2 separate regions of the Homo sapiens genome follow, and region 1 is linked to region 2. The links come from fine-mapping of genetic effects on gene expression. Tissue or cell type: whole blood. Region 2 holds a variant in brackets; the other region holds the start of a gene. All regions are shown on one strand. Distances are from middle to middle. Region 1 holds the start of CDS2 (CDP-diacylglycerol synthase 2). Region 2 overlaps CDS2 (CDP-diacylglycerol synthase 2).

Region 1 (8,473 bases), 35 kb before region 2:
GATTTGAAGACATTTTAAATGACAAACTCTATCCATGGGGGATCCACCATGTACATCAATCTGTTTATTTCTGCTCTATTACAGAAGTGATGTCCTCCTAAAAGTGTCAAATGATAAAGAGGTGTACAGTTACGTAAATTTTATGTTAAACTGAAATGAGGACATAAACATGCCTATGACTGTGGTCAGAGAAGGCCTCTCTGAGGAGGTAGCATCTTATCAGAGAAGACAGCTGCTTGGAGAGTTGGAAAAAAGCATTCTAGGCTGAGAGAATAGCATGATTATAAAGGTCAGCATACTTGGAATATATTCAGACAAGTTTGATGTAGAACTCAGACTGATGTGTCTGAAGCAAGAGTGGTGCAAGGTGAGGTTGCAGAGAGGCTGGGGTGAGCTCTTGCAGGACTTTGTAGGCTCTCTAAAAGTGCAAGGGAATGTGGTCAACAGCAGATCTTTGATGTGATCCAATTTACATTTTAAGTGGCTACTCTAACATCTAGTAAAGGTACTATTGGATCAGTGGGAGAAAGAATGAAGTAAATTTTGATCAGATAATTGGTTAAACTATTAGAAAAGAATAAAAGCTGTAGACTTTTCTGGATGGGCGCAGTGGCTCATGCCTGTAATCCCAGAACTTTGGGAGGCTGAGGTAGGTGGATCATCTGAGGTCAGGAGTTCGAGACCAGCCAGGCCAACATGGTGAAACCCCGTCTCTACTAAAAATACAAAAATTAGCTGGGCGTGGTGGTGCACACCTGTAATTCCAGATACTAGGGAGGCTGACGCAGGAGAATTGCTTGAACCCGGGAGGCAGAGGTTGCAGTGAACCAAGATTGCGCCACTGTACTCCAGCCTGGGTGACAGAGCAAACCTCCATCTCAAAAAAAAAAAAAAAGACTTTTCCTAATAATTATTCACTAAATTCTAGATAAAGAATTCAAATTCAAATCTTGACCCAATAAGAAATGGAAAAATATTTTGGTAAATATTTATGAGATCTTCCTATGGGCTTCCAAACATAAGAAAAAAACCCATAAAACATAATGAATAACCATACAAGTTTTAAGACTTCAGTATGCCTCAAAGGATTATATTGGTTAGTATAGTTTAGGTTTCAGTGACAGAGAACTCAACTTGAATGGATTAAGAGAAATAGAAAATTTATTCATCTAAACAAAAAGCCAGAGGTATCTGGCCTCCACTGTCCAGTCCTAGTCTTCATAAACGTGAAGTTTGTTAGCCACATTAATAAGCAAAGAAATGTAAATTCAATGGAGACAGAATTTTAACCTACCAAATTAATAAAAATCATGTTAACACCTGGTGTGTTAGGAAGGATTCAAGGAAGTAGGCACTTAAATACATTGCAAGTGGGAGTATACATTGGTATAATTTTTCTGGTGGAAACTTAGAAATGTGTATCAAAAGCCTTAGAATTTTACTTATTCTTTGACACAGAAATTCGATCTCTAGGGTTTTTTCCTACAGAAGAAATCAGGGGCATTTACCAAGATCAAGCATGCTTAAGAATGTTTCTTGAGCCAGGTGCAGTGGCTGATGCCTGTAATCCCAGCACTTTGGGAGGCCCAGGTGGGCGGATCACCTGAGGTCAAGAATTCAAAACCAGCCTGACCTAAAACCCCTGTCTCTACTAAAAATACAAAAATTAGCCAGCTGTGGTGGCGGGCGCCTGTAGTCCCAGCTACTCGGGAGGCTGAGACAGGAGAATTGCTTGAACCTGGGAGGCGGAGGTTGCAGTGAGCCGAGATCACACCATTGCACTCCAGCCTGAGCAACAAGAGGGAAACTGTCTAAAAAAAAAAAACAAAAAACAAACAAAAAGAAAACAAAAAACGAAAAGAGAGAGAGAGAAGGGCTCTAAAGCTGGCCTAAAGCCCTATTAGCATCACTTCCACCAGACCCCTGTTCGTCACACAGTACTGACTTCAGGAATATACTTGATCTGAGTTCCATTAACCTGAGAGGGCTGAGTGTAATGGATGAGAAGTTTGTTCAGACCACATGTTATCCATCCTAGTAATCATGCTGTGCATTCTATAATTCTGACTTATGTGCATTGATTCTCCAAGCCTCCTTTTATTAGGCTGGATTTGAAAAGGAGCAGCTGAGTTTCTAGAAGGACTGACATGACACTCACTTAGATATGACCTTTCATACCTACGTGCCCCTGAAGGTGAAGTTCTAGACACTAACATCTTCACCTGTCTTAGAAGATCATCTTGCTCGAGTGCTGTGGCTCATGCCTGTAATCCCAGAACTTTAGGAGGCCTATGTGGGAGGATTGCTCGAGCCCAGGAGTTTAAGACCAGCCTAAGCAATAAAGTGAGACTTCATCGCTACACAAAAATTTAAAAGTTAGCTGGGTGTGGTGCTGCACACCTGTAGTCCAAGCTACTCGGGCATATACTCATATAGAAATCAGGAATATATAATGCTGTTTTCAGAATTCTCACTACCTGCCCCAAAACTCACAGCTCAGGTCAAAATTACCAATAGGAAATTTTAGCCAGGCATGGTAGCTCATGCCTGTAATCCCAGCACTTTGGGAGACCTAGGCGGGAGGATCTCTTGAACCCAGGAGTTCAAGACCAGTCTGGGCAACATAGTGAGACCCTGTCTCTAAAAAAAGGAGAAATAAATTAATTAAAATTTAAAAATTGAAAAGAAGAAAAATGTAAAATTATATTTTTTTAAAAAACGAAATTGCAATTCTTTTGTGTGCAAGTGTCTCATTGTGAGATTACAGTATGCTTAAGTTGGGGACGCAGTGTTATATGTGTTTTACATCACTTACAGGGCAGTGAATAGAAAGAACAGGAAACACCAAAGGCAATGCTGGAGCAACACAAGTATTAATAAATGCAGGCAGGCAGTATAGTATGGTGGTTAGAGTGTGGGCTGGTAACAAACCTGTTTGTGTTCTAATTCTTACTAGGCACTTTCTAGCTGGGAGACCTTGGCTAAGGTCCTTTTAAAAGTTTTAAATCCATCCAACAAGTACTTACAATGGATGTGTCAAAGACATAGAGGATGCACAGTAAACAAAGTAGACAGCACTTCTGTCCCAAAAAAGGTCTTTCCATAGTCCAGAAGACAAATTTGAAAAACTGAGGAAGGGCCAGGCTCGGTGGCTCACGCCTGTAATCCCAGCACTTTGGAAGGCGGAGGCGGACGGATCACCTGAGGTCAGGAGTTCGAGACCAGCCTGACCAATATGGTGAAACCCCGTCTCTACTAAAAATACAAAAGTTAGCCGGGCGTGGTGGCGCGCACCTTGGAATTGTTTGCGCCCGGGAGGCAGAGGTTGCAGTGAGTCGAGATCATGCCACTGCACTCCAGCCTGGGCGACAGAGCGAGACTCCGTCACAAAACAAACAAACAAACGAACAAACAAACAAACCACTGAGGAAGATCTTAACTGTAAAATTCAAATCATACCCACTTCCAAGCCATGTGTGGATTAAACGAGATAAGCCAACTAAAGCGATTACTCAGCTCAGTGCCTAGTATACAATTAGTGCTTAACAAGTACTAGCGACCGCTTGGCAAAGCAAAGCAGACTGAAGCGTGGGTTTCATTTCTCATCATGTGATAAGTGATAAAATGCTCTTAACCAGGTCGGCTCACCTGGCCTTTCCATTCGACCTAAATAACGTCTACTTACTTGCGTAAGGGAAGAGCTCTGGCCCAGGTCAGCAAGCATTTGTCAGGCTAGAGCCTCCGGGTGGCGCTTCTCGCCCTCAGTAACCGGTTACCTCCAGAACCAGGGCGCCAGCTCCGGCCATCCGCGGTTAAGCGGGAGCTCCCATTGGCTAATCGCACACTGAAACGCACGCCTTTTCCCGCCCCTGACGCTGCCGTCCAATGCGCGCCTCTCGACTCTGCTCCGCCCCGCCCCGCCCCCGTCGCCCTGCCTCCCTGGCGTATTTGCGCCATTGGTGGATATTCCGGACCGTGATGGTGGCGCTGCGCGTGCGCACTCGCTCCGAGCCCTGCTCCCGGGAGAGGGAGCTCTCGGGTCGGGGCTAGGGAAGGCTGACCCCGCTCGGCCCGGGTGAAAGGGCGGTGACGGCACTGGGTGGGGCCGAGCTCCAGGGCTGGCTGCTGGGCTGCTAAGGGAACTGTGAGCCGCTCAGAGCCGCGCGCCTCCCGGGCGGGGCGGGGCCGGCCGTGGGAGTCCGCGCGTGCCCGCGCCGAGCTGCCTGCTCCGGCGGCTTCGCTGCTAGCTCGCGGCGACGTCGGGCCGATTTTCCCAGGATGACAGAGCTGAGGCAGAGGGTGGCCCATGAGCCGGTTGCGCCACCCGAGGACAAGGTAGCGGCAGCGTCGGGGTGGGCGCGGCCGGGACAGCGGCGCATCCGGGAGGCCTGCGGGGGACGCGCGCAGAGGGGTCGTCTTGTTCTCTGACCCTTTGTCGCAGCCGACGGCGGCCCCGGGCCCGGGTAGCGCGAAGGGCCCTCGGGTGCCCGGCCTTCGCGGCGCGCGCGTCAGGGGTCGGCGGGTCGGGGTCCCGGCTCAGGGTCTGACTGAAGTGGCTCCCCCGGGGCGCAGGAAGGAGCTTCTCGGGAGTGGCGCACGGCCTCCTGCCTCGCTGGGCTGGCTGCGGGGACTCCCCTCTCCCCCAACTCCGTGAGGCCTTCCTGGAGGTGAAGATATGCAGAGCCTTCTTAGGGAGGCGGCTCCTCTGAGCGCAACTTAGGCTCTCCGTTCCCTTTTACAATGTTATTATTTTGGGGGGTGGGGGAATCAGGACAAGGCCATAGCATTTGCCTCCTGGGAGATGTAAATCCCTTCTTGGGCATGAAATCATCGGCTTTGAGCAAAGGGGTGTTACCCAGTGAGCCAGTCCGTCATCAGCAGGTGTTGGAGGGCGTCCTCCCGGTTGATGGGTTGTTTCCTGCACCGTGTGGGCTCTGGTGGGTAGGGGAGGAGAGTAGGAAGGAGGCCATCTTGGCGGGGACAGTGGCGGGGGTGACGGGTGGGGGAGTGGACTCCTTTGGGTGAAGTGAAAGATCTGTGTAGGGGAGTTAAGGAAGGTAGGGATTGGTTTTATTACTGTGGAGGTTGAATGGCAGTATAGGACTTTGTAGCAGTAGTTGTGCTTTCCGAGATAGCAGTGATCAGGAGCCCTGTGTTTGGGAAACTGATCAGACAGTGATGTGTAGAAGGGACTGAGGGAGCCTGGACCAGACTGAGGGAGCCTGGTTCACTCGGGATTGCCCATGAGTGACCTGTAGATGTTTTCTTTGGCCCACATATTGCCTTAAAAATCAGAAAGTTTCTCCTAACAATCTAAATTTCTTGCCTGTCTTAGATAATTGGAGGGTCCACCATCACTTTGTCACCTGCTCAATGGTTGGCTGGAGCTGAGGATCATCGGTTCCCACCAATCCCTGTTGCCTTACACCAGGCTCACGGCTTCCCCTAATGCAGCCTGTAACTTTTTGATGACTGGACGCAACGGACATTAGGGAGACACCCAGAAGGAAGAAAGCACAAGATTTGGTGACAGGATGTCAACAGAGCAGTTACACTAGGAGGAATGTTTTTGGTGAAAGATAATGAGATCATGGGTTTTTTTTAAACAACTTTCGTGTTATTGCAGTTGACAGTGGACTATCCAAAGAGAACTGTTCCTACCGATTTTTAGAACATATATTTTGGCCAGGCACAGTGCTGCTCGCCTGTAATCCTAGCTTCTAGGGAGGCTGAGGCAGGAGGATCGCTTGAGCCCAGGAGTTTGAGACCCTGTCTCAAAAAACAAAAACAAAAACATATTTTGGAGAACATTTAGGGCTGGGGCTGAGGATTTAGCAGTCGCTTGCAGAGACAAGATACTTTGAAGTCTCTAATTTTTCATTTGGCTATCCTGGTTCAGCCTGAAAGAATTCTGACTTACCTTGTACTACTAGTTGGTGAGTATGCAGATGTTTGGAGGCTCTGTAGCTCTGTTTAAGGGTGAGATCATGCTTGATGTTAGTGGGACTTTGTGGACCTAGAAGGTGTGAGGAGAGAGAGAAGAAAGAAGGCATGATAGCTGGTGGGCCATGTTTTTGAAAAGCTAACTATGTACAATAATTAGAATGTCAAAAAACAACCTTGGGATTATGAGATGCAACATAAAGATTCTACCCTCCTTCCCGGACTCGTTGGATCCATCCCCCAGAGATAAAGTGCGAGTTGAACCGTCTTACTTTCACATCCTGTACTTTAGACTGGGAGGACCTGAGGAGCTGTCCAGCTAGAGGTGCACTTATATCACTTATACAGTGACAGAATGCCTGGGGTCATGAGGTCCACTTGTGGCGTGTTGTTTCCTAAAAGACAGCTGCTATGCACTCTGTTAAAAGCCTGATGTTCATTACCGAGAACAAGACAATCAGTTCCTCACCCCATTATTCAGAACTTCTCAATTGTCACTGAATTGTCATGTATGGGATTTTATTATTATTATTTTTTTAGACGGAGTCTCTCTCTGTCGCCCAGGCTGGAGTGCAGTGGCACGATCTCAGCTCACTGCAACCTCTGCCTCCCAGGTTCAAGCTAGTCTCCTGCCTCAGCCTCCTGAGTAGCTGGGACTATAGGCATCCGCCACCACGCTCGGCTAATTTTTTTTTTTTTTTTTGAGAGGGAGTTTCGCTCTTTTGCCCAGGCTGGAGTGCAATGGCATGATGTTGGCTCATCGCAACCTCTACCTCCCAGGTTCAAGCAATTCTCCTGCCTCAGCCGCCCGAGTAGCTGGGACTGCAGGCGTGTGCTACCATGCCCGGCTAATGTTGTATTTTTAGTAGAGGCACGGCTTCTCAATGTTGGTCAGGCTGGCCTCAAACTCCCAACCTTAGGTGATCCTCCCGCCTCAGCTTCCCAAAGTGCTGGGATTATAGGCATGAGCCACTGTACCTGGCGTTTTTTTTTTTGTATTTTTAGTAGAGATGGGGTTTCACTGTATTGGCCAGGCTGGTCTTGAACTCCTGACTTCGTGATCTGCCCGCCTCGGTCTCCCAAAGTGCTGAGACTACAGACGTGAGCCACCACACCTGGCCATGTTTGGGATTTTTAATAAGGGAACATTTTAAAAACTGTGAAATCTATTATTTGTCTTTGAATGTATATAGTAAACTTTTGTTTGTTGGTTTGTTTTTTTGTTTTTTTTTGAGACAGAGTTTCGCTCTTGTTGCCCAGGCTGGAGTGCAATGGCACAATCTCGGCTCACTGCAACCTCCACCTCCCGTGTTCAAGCAATTCTCCTGCCTTAGCTTCCCCAGTACCTGGGATTACAGGTGCCTGCCATCACGACTGGCTAATTTTTTTGTGTTTTTAGTAGAGACGAGGTTTCACCATGTTGGCCAGGTTGGTCTCGAACTCCTGACCTCAGGTGATCTACCCACTTTGGCCTCCCAAAGTGCTGGGATTACAGGTGTGAGCCACCGTGCCCGGCCCATAGTAAACTTTTAAAAAATCCTGATTTATTCTGTTTCATAGTTTGGGAAACACCTACTTCCATGACTTTGGCTTTGCCAATATTCTTGTGTTAGAACCCAAGGAAATTAGAAATAATAAATTTTAAGGAAATGCATTATGAAACAAGAACTTTTTAATTTCATAGTAGAAGAATCCAGTGAACAATTTTCAAGTCAGTGCTTTAAAAGCTCTGGAATAGGCTGGGCGCGGTGGCTCACGCCTGTAATCCCAGCACTTTGGGAGGCTGAGGTGGGCAGATCACCTGAGGTCAGGAGTTCGAGACCAGCCTGACCAACGGGGTTTTAGTAGAAACCCCGTCTCTACTAAAAATACAAAATTAGCCGGGCGTGGTGGTGCATGCCTGTAATCCCAGCTACTCAGGAGGCTGAGGCAGGAGAATCGCTTGAACTTGGGAGGCAGAGGTTCCGGTGAGCCGAGATTGCGCCGTTGCACTCCATCCAGCCTGGGCAACAAGAGCCAAACAACGTCTTAAAAGAAAAGAAAAGCTCTGGAGGCTGGGCGTGGTAGCTCACGCCTGTAATCCCAGCACTTTGGGAGGACGAGGCGGGTGGATCACGAGGTTAGGAGATCGAGACCATCCTGGCTAACATGGTGAAACCCCATCTCTACTAAAAATACAAAAAATTAGCCGGGCGTGGTGGTGGGCGCCTGTAGTCCCAGCTACTCGGAAGGCTGAGAGGCAGGAGAATGGCGTGAACCTGGGAGGCGGAGCTTGCAGTGAGCCGAGATGGCGCCACTGCACGCCAGCCTGGGCGACAGAGCAAGACTCTGTCTTAAAAAAAAAAAAAAAAAAAGCTCTGGAGTAAACTTGAAAGATTCCTCAAAATGTTACAGTTGCTTAACTGCTGTGGCAAAACTGTCTTGTAAATAGAAAATCATTAGTATCAAAATAATCTGGAGCATGTTTATTTATAAAAGTCAGAAGGTATTTTGTTATATTTAGCATCTGAGAATGGAATTTTCAAAGCCA
Region 2 (8,473 bases):
TTGGGGTCTGGGAAGTCCAAGATTATGGCGCCAGCAGATTGAGTGTCTGGTAAGGAGCTGCTTTCTGGTTCATCCAGGGCTTCTCACTGAGTCCTTATGTGGTGGAAGAAGGATTTCTCTGGGACCTCTTTTATAAGGGTGCTAATCCCATTAATGAGGGGTTCAGCCTCATGACCTAATCACCTTCCAGTAGCTCCATCTTCTAATACCATTGAGATGGGGGTTAGGATTTCAGCGTATGAATTTTGGGGAGACATAAATATGCAGACCACCGTAGGCCAAGACTTCAGATTGGGGTAGGTGGCAGGCACTTATTTCACTTCTTTCTGAAGGAGCTTGTTACTGACAGATTATCATTTTAGGTCCTTTAGTTCAAGCTTGTCTGACCCACGACCCAACACAAATTCGTAAACTTTCTTAAAACATTATGAGTTTTTTGTTTTTTGTTTGTTTGCTTGTTTTAGCTTATCAGCTATCGTTAGTGTTAGTGTATTTTATATGTGGCCCAAGACAGTTATTCTTCTTCCAGTGTGGGCCAGGGAAGCCAAAAGATTGGCTCCTGCTTTAGGTCTTTTTTTTTTTTTTTTTTTTTAAGACAGAGTTTTGCTCTTGGTTGCCCAGGCTGGAGTGCAATGGCACAGTCTCGGCTCACTGCAACTTCTGCCTCTCGAGATCAAGTGATTCTCTTGCCTCAGCCTCTTGAGTAGCTGGGATTACAGGCACCTGCCACCACGCCCAGCTAATTTTTTTGTATTTTTAGTACAGACGGGGTTTCACCATGTTGTCCAGGTTGATTTTGAGCACGTGACCTCAAGTGATCTACCTGCCTTGGCCTCCCAAAGTGCTGGGATTACATGTAGGTGTAAGCCACTGGGCCTGGCCTAGGTCATCATTTTTTAAACAACCCTGTAAAATCTCACCAAGATTTTTCACTTGTTTCCAGATTATAATGGATTCTGTTTGACTCTGGTCTCCAGGTTGTCAAATGACATATTTTCAGGATATAAGACTATAAGTAGACTTTTCTATTAACAGTAAAGCTTGTGAATCTTGGTTTGATATGTACAAACAGAGCCACCACTATGTACCCCAGTTTCTGGTTGGAGTGACAGAATGAGAACACAGCCAATTTCTGAGCAGCTAGCGGTTTGGGGACACAGTAGGAATTTAATACTGGGTGATCGTTGTATCTTACAAGGTGCATCCTCAAGTAGTAATAACTCATTTGTCAGAGATATATGGTGGTGTTTTGCAGTGATTTGCAAACTGTGTTCTCTGCTGATACGTTAGGGGTTCTCCAAACAAAATTTAAATCTGACAGTGAAGATGAATTGAGACTCCTTCACGCTGTTATCTCAGCACAGGTGAGGGTGAGGCACTTGATGTTAGGAAAACCTTGCTTTAACCCATGTGTCTTTGCGATGGAACAGAAGGATAAGCGAGCCGCTTTGAAAATCAGATTGAATTTTTTTTTTGTAGTAAAGTTTTATCAAACATTTAAGACCTTTACAAACTTGACTAAATTTTGTTATTCATTTCAAATTAATATCAGAAATCTAATGTGTTACATTTTCTTTTTTTTAATATATATTTTAAATTATACTTTAAGTTCTAGGGTACATGTGCACAACGTGCAGGTTTGTTACATATGTATACATGTGCCATGTTGGTGTGCTGCACCCATTAACTCGTCATTTACATTAGGTATTTCTCCTAATGCTTTCCCTCCCCCTCCCCCCACCCCACAACAGGCCCCAGTGTGTGACATAAATTTTATGTCAGATAATGTAGAACAGAGAAGCATCAAAAAATGACTCAATGGTCTTGATAAATTCATTTGAAGATGAAATTATGTTAAAATTTTATAGTTCAGTAATTTAAAAGTATATTATAGTTTTTTTCTTTTTGTTTTGGATGATTTGCATGTAAACAAGTGTAAGGAATCTTTGTAAAGCATCAGAAGAAAATTTTAGGTGTTTTGATGTTCATTAACAGACTATTAGCAAGATGTCAAAGGAATAATAATGCCTGTGCAGATGGTAACTGCTTTGTTCTGTTCCTCTTTTCCCCCAAAACAGATTTGTAAAAATTGTATTTGTTACATTATTCACAAACCTTTTCTACAAAATATATACCAAACTGGGTTCTTTTGAAAGATTTTTCTAGTAATTTTTAGGTCATTTCCATATATATTATGTGCAGTTTAAAAAGCAAACCAACCCTAGTTTGTTAAATAATTACCCTGTTTTTACTTAAAAAAAATGGGGTTGTGCACCTGTGTAAAGTTTGTACATCTTAGCAGTATAAATTACTGACACATTTTTAAAAATGAAGTAAAAACTCAGAATCCTTGTGATTCAGTGCCCTTATGTTTTTAAAAAAGAGGAAAAAATAATGCAAGATTCAGAATATTGGAGTGGTTGATATGCCTTCTTCATTTTAGTTTTTGACTGGCTGCTCATATGCCGATGATGATGAAGCTGAGCTGTTTGTGCCACTGCCATTTGATGCTGCGAGAATCACAACTGTTTCATCTGTTGCTGCTGCTATTAAAAGGCAGAGTAGTAACTGGCCACTGAATTAAATTTAAAAGAAAGGCAGGGGAGAGCCGGCATCTCTGCTGAGGATGGCTTTGCTTAGGTCTTTTCTTAGCCCTGCAACTACTTAACACTTCATATGCTTGCTGAAGGGGTAGGTCTGCCCTTGACTGGTTGAACCTTGTTCAGAATCCTGTTCACCTGGCTGTTGAGGACTAGAAGTTGTAGGTTGCTGAGGTGGTGTTGGGGGTTCTAGCCCCCTCCTCACAGTAGTAGGGGAACCAGAGTTTTGGGGAGCCTTAGCAGTTTTCTTCCTGGTTGCAGGTTGGGGTGGATACAGCTGTTAGACTGTCTGCATTGTCCAGTATAGTAGCCACTAGCCACATGTGGCCAATTAAACCTTTTCTTACTGTGGCTAAATATTATATATATCATAAAATTGATAATTTTAACCATTTTCAAGTGTATGGTTCTATGGCATTGAGTACGTTAACATTGTTTTGCAACTGTCACCAGAACAAACATTCCAGAATATTTTCATCTTCCCCAAATGAAACTCTGTACCCATTAAACAACTCTCCCCTCTCACTCCCCCAGCCCCTGACAACCACCATTCTATTTTCTGTCTCTACGAATTTGACTACTCTAGGTACCTCATGTAAGTGGAATCATATATTTGTCCTTTTGTGTGTGGCTTATTTCACTTAGCACAATGTCCTCAAGGTTCATCCATGTGGTAGCATGTGTGAGAATTTCCTTCCTTTTTAAGGCTGAATAATATGCCACTGTATATGTATACTACATTTTGTTCATTCCTTTGTTGATAGATACTTGGATTGCTTCTACTTTTTTGTTTATTGTGAATAAGGCTGCTATGAACATGGGTGTACAAATATCTCTTTGAGTCCCTGCCCTCAGTTCTTTTGGGTATATACCCAGAAGTGGAATTGCTGAGTCATGTGGTAATTCTATATTTGATTTTTTGA[G/T]GAACTGCCAGGCTGTTTACTATAGCAGCTGCATTATTTTACATTCTGACCAACAGTGCACAAGGGTTTCAGTTTTTTCACATCTTCTCCAGTACTTGTTATTTTGGTTTTTCTTTTTTCTTTTTTGAAAATAGCCACTCTAGTGGATGTGAAGTGTGTGGCAGTTTAAATTTAATTAAAAATAAATACATAAATTCACTTCCTTAGTCTCGCTAGCCACATTTTAATTGTTCAATAAGCCACACACAGCTGTGGCTCTCATATTGGACAGTATAGAGAGAACATTTCCATTATTGCAGAAAGTTCTATACTGACAAAACCTGGAGGTAGCAGTGGACCTGAAAGGGATTGATCCAAGCCCAGCAGAGTCCCAAGGATTCAATCAATTGATAACTGACACATACATTGAGAGGCAATCCATTGATAACTGACACATACTTTGTGTAAGTAGTATAATCCAGTATAGACATAGTTTTATATTCTGCCTTTTTCATGTTGCTGCACGGTGTTTATAGTAGTCTTGTTAATAGCTGCACAGAAAGTTGATTTACCGTAATTTACCTAATAATTTTTCCTTGTTAGGGACATAAAACCAGTTTCTCCTTTTCAGTACTGCAGTAGAGTATGCTCATTTCCCAGTTGTCTCCAGGCCTAGCCCTTCTGGTTTCTTCATCTGTTCATTTTATCGTCTTGCTCTTTTTTGTCTCCTTACTGTTTTAACCACTCTATTGGACGTACTTGGCCTCTAAGTAAAGTTTGACTAACGCTAACTAGAACCAGACCATGCCTGTGTTAATATAGCCTAAAATGCCATTAGCTATTTTTGCTGTTTGAACTGCTTGTACCATCTTGGGTCAAGTGCCTACTCCAAAACAGTCAAGGTGCACATTGCCTTAGGCTGGGGTAAATGCCTGTTCGTGAACCTATCACTGTGGCAGAGGGGCAGAATTAAAAATAAGTAGACTGTACAAGCTGCTGTATACCATGAAATAGTTTATGGATTTTTAGGAGGGAACCAACTGCAGTGTCCAGTACCTGGGGGAAGATAGGGAGATAAGAATTAAGGGTCGAACATCCCAAAATCAAAAATTTGAAATTTTCAAAATCTGAAACTTTTTGAGTGCCAATGTGATGCTCAAAGGAAATGCTCATTGGAGCATTTTGAATTTAGGATTTTCTGATTAGGGATGCTCAGCCAGTAAGTATAATGCAAATATTCCAAATTCTGAAAAGAACTCTGAAATGCAAAACACTTCCGGTCTCAAGCATTTTGGTTAAGGGGTATTCAATCGCTACCTCTCAGGTTTCTGGCTTATGCAGGGTATATAGACTCGCATGCTGTCAACTGATTGACTAGGCAAGACTTCAGGATCAGTAGTTTTACGGACAATGTCAAAAGTGTTCTGTTTAGATGTGTTACTTTTGAGATGCCTGTAAGAACTTTCTCGTGGAGATGTCAGTAAGTGGTTGGAAATATGAATCTGAAGCTTGGGGGAGAAGTTGGGGTTGGAGATACAAATGTTGGGGTCATTGGCATGGAATTGGTAATTAAAGCCAAGGGGCTGGATGATGATACCTAGGGAGAGAGTGTGGTAGGTCCAGAACTGAGCCCAGGGCCCATTCAACATTTTGAAGTCAGGTAGACTTCAAAGTCACAGGAGACTGAGAAAGAGCAGCCAGTCAGGTAGAGTGAGAACCTGATAAGTATGGTATGGAGGTAGCTGAGAGGAGAATGTTTCAAGGAGGAAATGGTCAACTAGATCTGACATTGCCAAGATATATGATAAGATGAAGGCAGGGGAATCTGTCTGATTTGGCAGCATGGAGGTTGTTTTATTTACTTATGTTTGAAGATGCACTTTAGTCTCCAGAGCCTAGGGAGATCATACTGAGGCCACATTGACTTTTCTTTGCTGGGGTAATGGATATTTGAAAGTAATTTGATGGCCAGGTACTGTGGCTCATGCTTATTCTCCCAGCACTTTGGGAGGCCAAAGCGTGAGGATCACTTGAGGCCAGAAGTTCGAGACCAGCCTGGGCAATGTAGAGAGGCTCTTTCCTTTTAATTACTGGTTTTCAAAAAAAGATTTGGTGTTTCAGCACCCTTCAGAGGTGGCCAAAGTAGTTTTTTTTGTTTCGTTTTTATTTTTATTTATTTTTTTGAGACAGAGTTTTGCTCTTGTTGCCCAGGCTGAAGTGCAATGGCTCCATCTCAGCTCACCATAACCTCCACCTCCCGGATTCAATCGATTCTCCTGCCTCAGCCTCCTGAGTATCTGGGAGTACAGGCATGGGCCACCACTCCCTGCTAATTTTGTGTTTTTAGTAGAGACAGGGTTTCTCCCTGTTGGTCAGGCTGGTCTCGAACTCCCAACCTCAGGTGATCCACCCGCCTCGGCCTCCCAAAGTGCTAGGATTATAGGCGTGAGCCACTGCGCCTGGCCAGTAGTTTCTTACAGTTATCATTATGAACTCATAAATTTTCATATACTTGTGTTTAAATCACTTTTTGTTTATTATTTTAATGCTCAAATTGTCCTATCGTTGGCCATTAGGAATGTTTCTTCAAAGACTTTCTCATTTTCAATTTAATTTTTTCCCCAGGTATCCTTAGTGATTTATCAAAAAGAGAAAGAAACTATTTAGCATTGTGGCTTTCATAATTTCTTTCTTTCTTTTTTTTTTTTTTTTTGAAGCAGAGTCTAGCTCTGTCGCCCAGGCTGGAAAGCAGTGGTGCAAACTCGGCTCACTGCAGCCTCTACCTCCCAGGTTCAAGCAGTTCTCTTGCCTCAGCCTCCCAAGTAGCTGGGATTACAGGTGCCCACCACCACGCCTGGATAATTTTTGTGTTTTTAGTAGAGACGGAGTTTCACCATGTCGGCCAGGCTGGTCTTGAACTCCTGACCTCAGGTGATTGCCCACCTTGGCCTCCTGAAGTGCTGGGATTAGAGGCACGAGCCACCGCACCCACCCCATAATTTCTTCTATAACTAATATGACACATTTGGGATTGAGAACACTGTTAATTCCATGTTCTTCAAGGGAGAAACATACTAGTTTCTCCCTTGAATAGTTACAGTCTATTTGATTGGTACTTGATTCCATGATGGTTGGTTATAAACCAGGAATACTACAAAAGTGACAATATAATGTTCCAATATGGTAAACAGCCCCAGGGTGCTTGTCTGCCCACAGGAGTAGGGGAGGTTGGGGCATGAGACACTGGGGACATTTGCTCTCATGTCTACTTATTTTGTCTAGGAATCTTTGTAGAAAACACTATTGTGAGGTGAGTGACAGTGAAGCAGGTACCAGATGGCGATTTATGATTTAGGGGCTCGTCGCATGTGGAGCCCAGCAGCTGTCCTGGTTCTACTTCCTGACAGAGGTCTGGGGAGCACACTTGAGCCCAGTTTTGAGATTGCGAATATATTTTTCTTCTCCATCTTACTAGATCTTTTGGCAGTATTAGACATACTCCCTCCTTGGGAGAGCTTTATCTTAATAAACTGAAAAAAAAAAAAAATTCCTTCCTTCCCCAGTAGCGCTGAAAACTCATTTTCCCTTAAATACTAAATAGAGATGCCCGACTAAGGAACTGATAATAGAAGGACCCGTTGGACTCCAGTGGGGCTTCTGATTTTTGGTGTCTTTCCCCTAACCCTGGAAGACAATAGGAAAACAAGTGATGTCATCGGAACAGAGCCGTTGGCAGAGCCTCCTGGGGACCTGAGTGGTTTTCTTGTCTCTGATAGTCTCTGTTCTGAATTAAGTAATGGCTTGTGATGGAGGTTGGTACTTCCTGCAGCTATTTCATATTTATAGTCATATGCTTGCTGTTAGTAAACAGATGCATCTACTCCAGAAGGAGGCTTCAATGGGCAAGGTGGGAGAGAGTGTTGGGAGAAAGGATTCCTGGTCATTCCTTGTCACAAAAATTATGGGTTTAATGTATGAGACTGGCAGTCATGCAGAGGTTGGGACTCAGTACAACTGTACGTATTTGAGTTAGAAAGCCTTGCATTCCTAGAAGCTGGATTTCAGACAGGATTTCCTCATCCTTTCTGAGACATACAGATTCTGTACTTTTTTTGGAAACCCCCGTATTGCTTAGGATACATTTGGCCACAAATGTCTAAGAAGAAGGGGAGATAAACAGTGGGACAGCTGGCTGCAGCCCTAAAATGCCTCCTCTAGTGCTACTGAGTGCAAAAATGAATTGTCAGCCTACGCGACATGTAGCCCAGCTACACCTGCCACTTCAGCAAACCCTGGATTCTCTCAGCATCATTGGCTCTGGCTGCCTCTGCAGATGTGGTTCTAGGTGCCAGGCCAGGTGCTGGGGGTACAGTGGTGAGGAAGTCAACATGGCTCCCCCACAGAGATGATGGTCTCGAGGCGGAGACTATGCGGTGTGGGAAGCCGTCTTTTTTTGTTTTTTTGTTTTTTTGAGACAGGGTCTTGCTCTGTCATCTAGGCTGGAATGCAGTGGCATGATCAGGTCTCACTGCAGCCTCAATCTCCTAGGCTTAGGCGATCCTCCCACTTTGGCCTCCCAAAGTTTTGGGATTACAGGCATGAACCACGGTGGGGAGCACTCCTAAGGAAGGACAGGGGCCGCTGGGACACACAGGCAGTTGGGGAAGATTTGGAGAGAAAGGGAACTCTTAAAAGATCAAGGAAAATTTGCTGGAAGAGAAGTGGGTTTTAGTAGAGGGTGGTTTGCAGACTGTTTAAGTAGGAACACAGGAGCAAAAGTCCTAAAGGTAAGAAAGTACAACCTGTTCTAGAAACTGACTCTAGTTCAGAATGGCTGTAAGAGATAAGGCTGGATGAGTAGATAAGACCCTGATCTCAAGGGGCTTGTATGCCATTTTGAAGACCTGTCATCTAGGTACTGGGGAGCTGTGGAAGGGGTTCAGGATGGAGAGTGACACAATCAGAATTTCT

The links. PIP is the estimated chance that this variant, and not a neighbour inherited with it, causes the effect.
Region 1: it holds the start of CDS2, and the variant in region 2 is fine-mapped to the expression of CDS2 in whole blood (TOPMed, PIP above 0.99). The same link has a PIP of 0.9 or more in neutrophils.

Annotation. Positions count from the first base shown.
Region 1 is chr20:5,122,815-5,131,287 of GRCh38, forward strand. CDS2 (CDP-diacylglycerol synthase 2) reads left to right here and starts at 4,194. Exons shown (of 13, transcript NM_003818.4): 1 at 4,194-4,335. The coding sequence starts at 4,279. It also overlaps a transcript of PCNA not described here. RefSeq lists a silencer at 3,683-4,602 and enhancers at 3,865-4,366, 4,943-5,032.
Region 2 is chr20:5,157,594-5,166,066 of GRCh38, forward strand. All of the region lies in intron 1 of CDS2 (CDP-diacylglycerol synthase 2), which reads left to right. Among named protein-coding and RNA genes, the nearest start is that of CDS2, 35 kb to the left of the region's middle. The variant G/T (reference allele first, on the strand shown) is at 3,524.